2 linked regions of the Homo sapiens genome follow. The protein of the gene in region 1 purifies or fractionates together with the protein of each later gene. This does not show direct contact. Each region holds a gene or a part of one and is shown in the gene's direction. Other genes may lie near its edges. The genes, in order: CCDC142 and OMA1.

The links.
Region 2: the proteins of CCDC142 (region 1) and OMA1 purify together in Homo sapiens (affinity purification with mass spectrometry; one large-scale study listed by BioGRID and IntAct). This does not show direct contact.

What each region holds. Positions count from the first base shown.
Region 1 is NC_000002.12:74,476,268-74,480,087, reverse strand, and holds part of CCDC142 (coiled-coil domain-containing protein 142), read left to right. Parts: intron 1-3,820.
Region 2 is NC_000001.11:58,539,907-58,543,726, reverse strand, and holds part of OMA1 (metalloendopeptidase OMA1, mitochondrial precursor), read left to right. Parts: intron 1-3,820. UniProt on the Homo sapiens protein: Metalloprotease that is part of the quality control system in the inner membrane of mitochondria. Activated in response to various mitochondrial stress, leading to the proteolytic cleavage of target proteins, such as OPA1, UQCC3 and DELE1.

The sequences.
Region 1 (3,820 bases):
AGTGGTAACATTTCAATTCTCATCATTCCTACTTCATTTATGAGTTGGATTACTCCTATGAAGAAAAACTTGCCTTCATTAATGATTTGGTTACTCTTAGGTATATTTTAGAGAGAAAATTCAGGATAAATGATTGCATCTTTCTCTTTACTTACCAGTTATCGGCACATTTCTCCTCTCTTAAAAGTTTAATTTGTATTTTTATTAATGCTTTGGGAGGCCAAGGCAAGAGCATTGCTTGAGGCCAGGAGTTCGAGACCACCAGGGGCAACATAGCGAGACCACCCTAGGCAACACAGACTCCCATCTCTCCAAAAATTAAAAAATTTAGCTGAGCATGGTGGCATGCGCCTGTACTCCCAGCTACTTGGGAGGCTGAGGCAAGAGGATCGTTTGAGCCCAGGAGGTCAAGGCTGCAGTAAGCTGTGATAGCCACTGCATTCCAGCCAGCCTAGGCAATACAGTGAGAGACCCTGTCTCAAAAAATAAAATAGTGCATGTCTATAGTTTAAAAAGTGAAATAGAATATTATTTTATAAAACTAATGAAAAAACAGCACTTTGTTTGCCCTCACTCACCTCTGATTTCTATTTCACAGTAGTAACCTTCATCCATGTTTGCCTGTTTCTCCTAACATTTTCTTATATGTTTATGAATAAAGCCATTATACTTTTTCTTCCCCATTTTGCACATTTATCTATTCCTATGTGGAAGATGTCTGGTTTTTTGTTTTCCTGCTCAGTTTTCTCCTCTTTGCCCCGAATAGGGGTGTGGCTGTAGAGTTCAGTCCTTAACTCTCTGCTTTTCTCTCAGTATTCCTGCTTACCCACAGTGTCTTGCTGCTGTGAACTCCCGGGTTCAGTCTTTCTGGCTCCCAGAGTTCTTTTTTTTTTTCTAAGATGGGGTCTCACTGTCACCCAGGCTGGAGTGCAGTTATGTGATCTTGGCTCACTGCAACCTCCACCTCCTGGGCTCAAGCAATCCTCCCACCTCAGCCTCCTGAGTAGCTGGAACCACAGGTGGAAGCCACAATGCCCAGCTACTTTTTTTTTTTTTTTTTTTGAGAAGGTGTCTCACTCTGTCACCCAGGCTGGAGTGCAGTGGCGTGATCTCTACTCACTGCAACCTCCACCTCTCAGGTTCAAGTGATTCTCCTGCCTCAGCCTCCTGAGTGGCTGGGATTACAGGCGCCTGCCACCACGCCCAGCTAGTTTTTGTATTTTTAGTAGAGATGGGTTTCACCATGTTGGCCAGGCTGGTCTGGAACCCTTGACCTCAGGTGATCCACCCACCTCAGCCTCCCAAAGTGCTGGGATTATAGGTGTGAGCCACCACACCCGGCCAATGCCCAGCTACTTAAAAAAATTTTTTTTTTTGTAGAGACAAGGTTTTGCCATGTTGCCCAGGCTGGTCTTGAACCCTTTTTAAAAATCTTTTTAAAAAACTTTTTTGGGAGGCCAAGGTGGGTGGATCGCCTGAGGTCAGGAGTTCAAGACCAGCCTGCCCAACGTGGTGAAACCCCGTCTCTACTAAAAATACAAAAAAGTAGCCGGTATGGTGGCAGGTGCCTGTAATCCTAGCTACTTCTGAGGCTGAGGCAGGAGAATCGCTTGAACCTAGGAGGCGGAAGTTGCAGTGAGCCGAGATAGCGCCATTGCACTCCAGCCTGGGCAACAAGAACAAAAATTCTGTCTCAAAAAAAAAACAGAAAACAAAAAAATTTTTTGTCCAGGTGCAGTGGCTCACACCTGTAATCCCAGCACTTTGGGAAACCGAGGCAGGTGGATCATCTGAGGTTAGGAGATCAAGACCGGCCTGGCCAACATGGTGAAACCCTGTCTCTTCTAAAAATACAAAAATTAGCTGGACATTGTGGTGTACACCTGTAATCCCAGCTACTCGGGAGGCTGAGGCAGGAGAATCACTTGAATCCGGGAGGCGGAGGTTCCAGTGAGTCGAGAGCGTGCCATTGCATTCCAGCCTGGGCAACAGAGTGAGACTCAAAAAAAAAAAAGTATATATATATATTTTATTTATATTATATCTATATATATTTTATTTATATTATATCTATTTATATATATATATATTTTTTTTTTAATTAGAAGTTTGGCTCGTGACATAGCCCTCAGGAGATCTGAGAACATGTGCCCTGTTCTTGAACTCTTGAGCTCAAGCAATCCACCGCCTTGGCCTCCCAAAGTTCTGGGATTACAGGCATGAGCCTCCACACCCAGCCTGGCTCCCAGAGTTCTAGTTAAACATCTGCATTTGCCTGTTGGGCATTTCTACCTCAGTTTACTGCTGTCTACTTAAACTCAACATGCCCCAGAGCAGGCTCATCATGAGTACTGCACACAGTGACGGTCATAGAGCCCTGAGGAAGGAAGGCTATAGTGGGCATGTGGTTAAAGAACGCTCCATACATGGCCTATGGCTGGAGATGGTGGCTGGGAAGCCTCAGAGGAGTGGCTGGGGTTACTGGAAGTGGGCAGTTTGTAGATCCTTGTGGGGGTAGCAGAGAGGTGGCCTTACCAGAGCAGAGGTTCCTTTTGTGGGTATGTTCACTGGGGTTGGGTGTGGGGTAGGGTAGTAAGCAATTTGGCATCAAATTGTGGAGGGCATGAACACCAGCCCCAACAATTTGCGCTTTACCTCATAAGTGAGGGGGTGACATTTTAAGAGCAGAAGGGTGTAATCCCAGCATTTCGGGAGGCCGAGATGGGTGGATAACTTGAGGTCAGGAGTTTGTGACCAGCCTGGCCAACATGGTAAAACCCCATCTCTACTAAAAATACAAAAATTAGCCAGGCATGGTGACGGGTGCCTGTAATCCCAGCTGCTCAGAGGCTGAGGCATGAGAATCGGTTGAACCCAGGAGGCAGAGGTTGCAGTGATCTGAGATTGCGCAACTGCACTCCAGCCTGGGCAATAAGAGCGAAACTTGGTCTCAAAAAAAAAAAAAGAGGCATTGTGAGTTTTCTTCCTGTTTGGACTATAAGATCCCAGTGGGTGGGGGAGAGACTGTCACACACTCTGCACCTTGTATTCCCTCAGTGTTGAGTACAGAGGCTCCTAACAAAAGTCCGTTGACAAAAGGGCAATTTCCTTGACATAAATAAGGGAGGAGAAGGGGGCTTGCATTTACTGGAGAAGAGAGGAAGATTTTGGATTTAGACAGGTTGTCAGATGTGCCAGGAGCCATATGGGCTCCACTCCATGTCTGGCCGCCCCCAGGTCTATCCTGTCTTCAGGCTCCCTGGCATCTACCATTTCTTTACAGAGCAGCTGCCATTAACCACATTTACTGGGGTTCCTCTCCCTCAAGATGGGCTGTAGAGCAGAAACCAGCTTTATTGCTGTGTTCTCTCCCTCCAAAAACAACCTATCAAACCAAAGAAACAAACCCAGCATATAGGCCTTTTCTTGCTTTATGGGTTATATTGCTCTGGAGTGGGCTGTGAAGAATAATAATATATAATAATGCCTTTCAATGTAAGGACATTCCAAAACTTCCTGAGTCTCAGAACATTCAAATAGTCATTGCTTCTGGTTTACATACAGTTCTTGTCTTCCTTTTGTAGGTGATAACCAAAAGATCATTGTAGGCTGGGTGTAGTGGCTTAGTGGCTCACATCTGTAATCCCAGCACTTTGGCAGGCAGAGGCAGGCCGATCACCTGAGATCAGGAGTTTGAGACCAGCCTGACCAACATGGCAAAACCTTGTCTTTACTAAAAATACAAAAATTAGCTGGGTGTGGTGGTGCACTCCTGTAGTCCCACCTACTTGGGAGCCTGAGGCAGGAGAATCACTTGAAC
Region 2 (3,820 bases), on another chromosome or scaffold:
GATTGCTATCTTTTAAATCTTTTAAAGATTTACAGATCATCATGTCATTTTTTAAATGATTACCTGGTATTTACCAGGGTAGGACTGTATGTTAATTGTCGGGGTAGGATTCTGTTGCCAGGGTTTGCATTTTAGAAATAATGCTTTAGCTCTAGTTTGGGGTCAAACTGTAGTGGGAGGGGTTAGTGGTGAAATAAGGCAGGGAGATTAGGTGGGTAGTGATCAACACCATAAGACCACAGAGCCCAGGAAAGGCTAGAATGAGATAAGAAGGAGGTAGAATTGACATGACTGATTTAATGTGGGCTGAGATATTTTGGATGCTAAAGTTGCTGTAGAGATAATCCAGTATTTCTGGAACTGATTAAATGTTGAAAATTGGTAAATTTGGCTTTGCAAAGTGTAGGAGGAACCCTCAGCTAGTTCCAGTAAACAACATGTATAATATTAAAATGCTGTCAATTTACAAAAACAAATGTATAACTGTTTTATACCATGTAAACGTCTTAGAGATCATTTATTTGCAGAATACAGAAACTCATTGAAGAAAGCGCATTATTTTGGGGATAAAGTAAAAGCTCATGAAGCTCAATTAAGTGTAGGAAGTACAATGGTTTCATGGGAATCAGGGAGGTCTTATTCTCTCATATTCACTCTGGCTTTGTGGTCTCTCACTTATCTTCTGTCTACACTTAATAGTCCATTGTCTTTTCTGTGGATCCACTTTTTTTTTTTTAAAAAAGCTTTTTGTTTGTAGTTCTTGCTTTCATATTGCTTTGTTTAGCCATAGCACCCGCTGTAGACCCAACTTACACATGCCCTTATATTCCTGTGCGGAATACTGTTTTATGTAAAATCTTTTCAGTATCAAATACCTACTCCTAGCTCTGTAGCTAATGGTAGGGGTTGCTAGGGATGAATGTGGCCGTCTAAGCCTGTCCCCTAAAATGAGGCTGTAAGATGCACATTTGGAAAAGGACTTGTGCTTGGGCAAGTGTCTGAAGCTTATCTACTACAGTAAATCATCAGATTTGAGGTCAAGGAAAGAAAGTGGGCTTGGGTTGTTTTTGCAGTTTGACTTCTAGAAGAAGACTTTACATTTAAACCTTAAAACACTTTCCCATTTAAAACAGTTCTTTCCATTTTTTTTTGTCTTTCTGCATCTGCCTAAATGGCATGAAAAATAATTGCTGCCTTCCTGAACTCTTCAGCTACTCATGGATGTCTTTTTAAGAATGCATACAGTATGTAGTATTTAATAACTGAATTTTATTATCCCCTAATAGTCTTACTTAGGTTCAGTTTTGTCTCCCCAACTAGATTATAACCTCCATGAGAGCAGGACTATATTCTGTGCTGCATAACTCTCATGGCCCCTAGCCAATGAAAACCTTACTAGCTACTCCAGTATGAATTGTGAAATGACTTCTAGGCTTAAATTATTTAACAATTTTTCAGCTTGGTTCAAAAAAGTAAAAACAAAGTATCTTGTTAATAATGTCAAACTATTATATATCAGCCTGGACTTTACTAATTTAAAATTGGTTGTATTTCAAAAAGGGTTAACTCAAAGTTAATGTTTTACTTAGCATGCCCTTTATTAACATTATACATTAACAGTGCAAGGGCAGGATGTATGAATTACATAAAAAATAAATTTGAGTAATTTTCAAATGGTTTGATATATAGATAATACTATTAAAACTGGTAGTCCTGGAGCATCTTTCTAGATAATATCGTATTAGCTTAGGTTGAAGTTTACATATTTTTTTCCCCAACTTTTATATGAAGATTTTGAAACATGCAGAAAAATTTAAGGAACACATATGTAACTATCACTGAGATACAATGATTGCTGATATTTTGTTTATTGACTTTATGTCCTTTGTGTGTGTACCTTTGCTGTACAATTTGAAAGTGAGTTTTATTTATCATGAACAGATCCTTCAGCAAGTATCTCAGGAATAAAATAGTCAGATAACCACAATATTATCACCTAAGAAAATAATAATTACCTAAAACAACTTGAAATTCAATTCATATTTAGATTCCCTCAATCTGGGTTTTTTTGTTTTTTGTTTTTGGTTTTTTTTTTTTTTTTTTTTTTTTTTTGACAGGTTCTCATTCTGTTGCCCACGCCGGAGTGTAGTGGCACAATTTTGGCTCACTGCAGTCTCTTGCCTCCCAGGTTCAAGTGATTCTCCTGCCTCAGCCTCCCAAGTAGCTGGGTTTACAGGCAAGCACCACTCTTTGTAATCCCTTCCCCTGCTGCTTTTTTCCTACAACTCCTCAAGCAGTCACTCATCTCTCTGTCACTATGGATTAGTTTGCATTTTTTGCAGTTTATATTATAGAGATGTAATCAGAGTATGTACTTTCTTGTGTTTTTCCTGTTTTTTTTTTTTTTTTTTTTTTTTTTTTTTTTTTTTTTTTGAGACAGAGTCTCACTCTGTTGCCCAGGCTGGAATGCAGTGGCGTCATCTCGGCTCACTGCAACCTCCGCCTCCCGGGTTCAAGCGATTCTCCTGCCTCAGCCTCCTGAGTAGCTGGGATTACAGGCAAGTGCCACCACACCTGCCTAATTTTTGTATTTTTAGTAGAGACGGGGTTTCACGCCTCGAATGCCTGACCTCAAATGATCCACCTGCCTCGGCCTCCCAAAGTGCTGGGATTACAGGCGTGAGCCACCATGCCCAGCTTTTTTTGTGTTTTTCAATGAATTTATACAGTTCACCTAAGATGTCAAGTTTAAGATTTTATCTTTCATTGATTTTAAGAAGTTATGTGCCTTGTAGTTTTTTTCCTTTGTGTTTCTTTTGTGTAGGATTTGTTAAACTTTTTGAATTTGTGGTTTTATAATTTTCATCAAGTTTGGAAAACTTTTGGCCATTATTTCAAGTGTTTTTTTTTTCTGTCTACACCTCCTCCCCGCTTTTTGGGGACTTCAGTTAGATGAATATTAGGCCACTTGAAGTTATTGCATACCTCATTGATGCCCTGTGCCTTTTTTTATTATTGTATTTTTTCTCTGTATTTCATTTTAGATGGTTTCTATTGATACGTCTTCAAAGTCACAAATCTTTATTTCTACAATGTTAATCTGCTGTTAGTCTCATCTAGTATGTTTTTCATCTTAGTTCTTACAGTTTTCTTGTCTAAAAGTTTAGGTCTTTTAAAGAAATATATTACATATCTCTACATAACATGCTCATATTTTCCTTTAGCTTCTTAAACATGTGCAGTATAGTTACAATAACTAATATCCTTATCTACTAATGCTGTTATTTGTTTATTTAGGAGTTAGTTTCCACTGATTGATATTTCTTCTAATTGTGGATCACATATCTTGCTGCTTGCATGCTTGGTGATTTTTAATTATAAATTGCACCTTGTTAAGTGTTAAATAGTTTTGTGTCCTAATACCTGTTTAGATTTTTTTTTTTTCCTGGGATGCAGTTGTTGCTTGGAAGCATTTAATCTTTTTGGGGGTTGCTTTTAATATTTGTTAGGTGGGGCCAGAGCAGCTTTCGGTCTCAGACTAATCTTTCTCTAATGTTGAGGCAAAACCCTTCTGAGTACTCTACCCACGAATGATAAGGTTTTCCACTTTGAATGGTGGGGAGGGGATAGGCAGTATACCATGCCCTGTGTGAGCCCTGTATATTATTCCCTGCAATCTTTTCAGGTGGCCCTTTCCCAGCTCCAGGGAATTTTCTTACACATATGCCCAGACAGGACTCAGCTGAATATGGGAGGGGGATTCTCTGCAGAACTCTAGAGTTATTTCTCTGTGCAGCTCTTGTCTTCTCTTGTCCTCTGT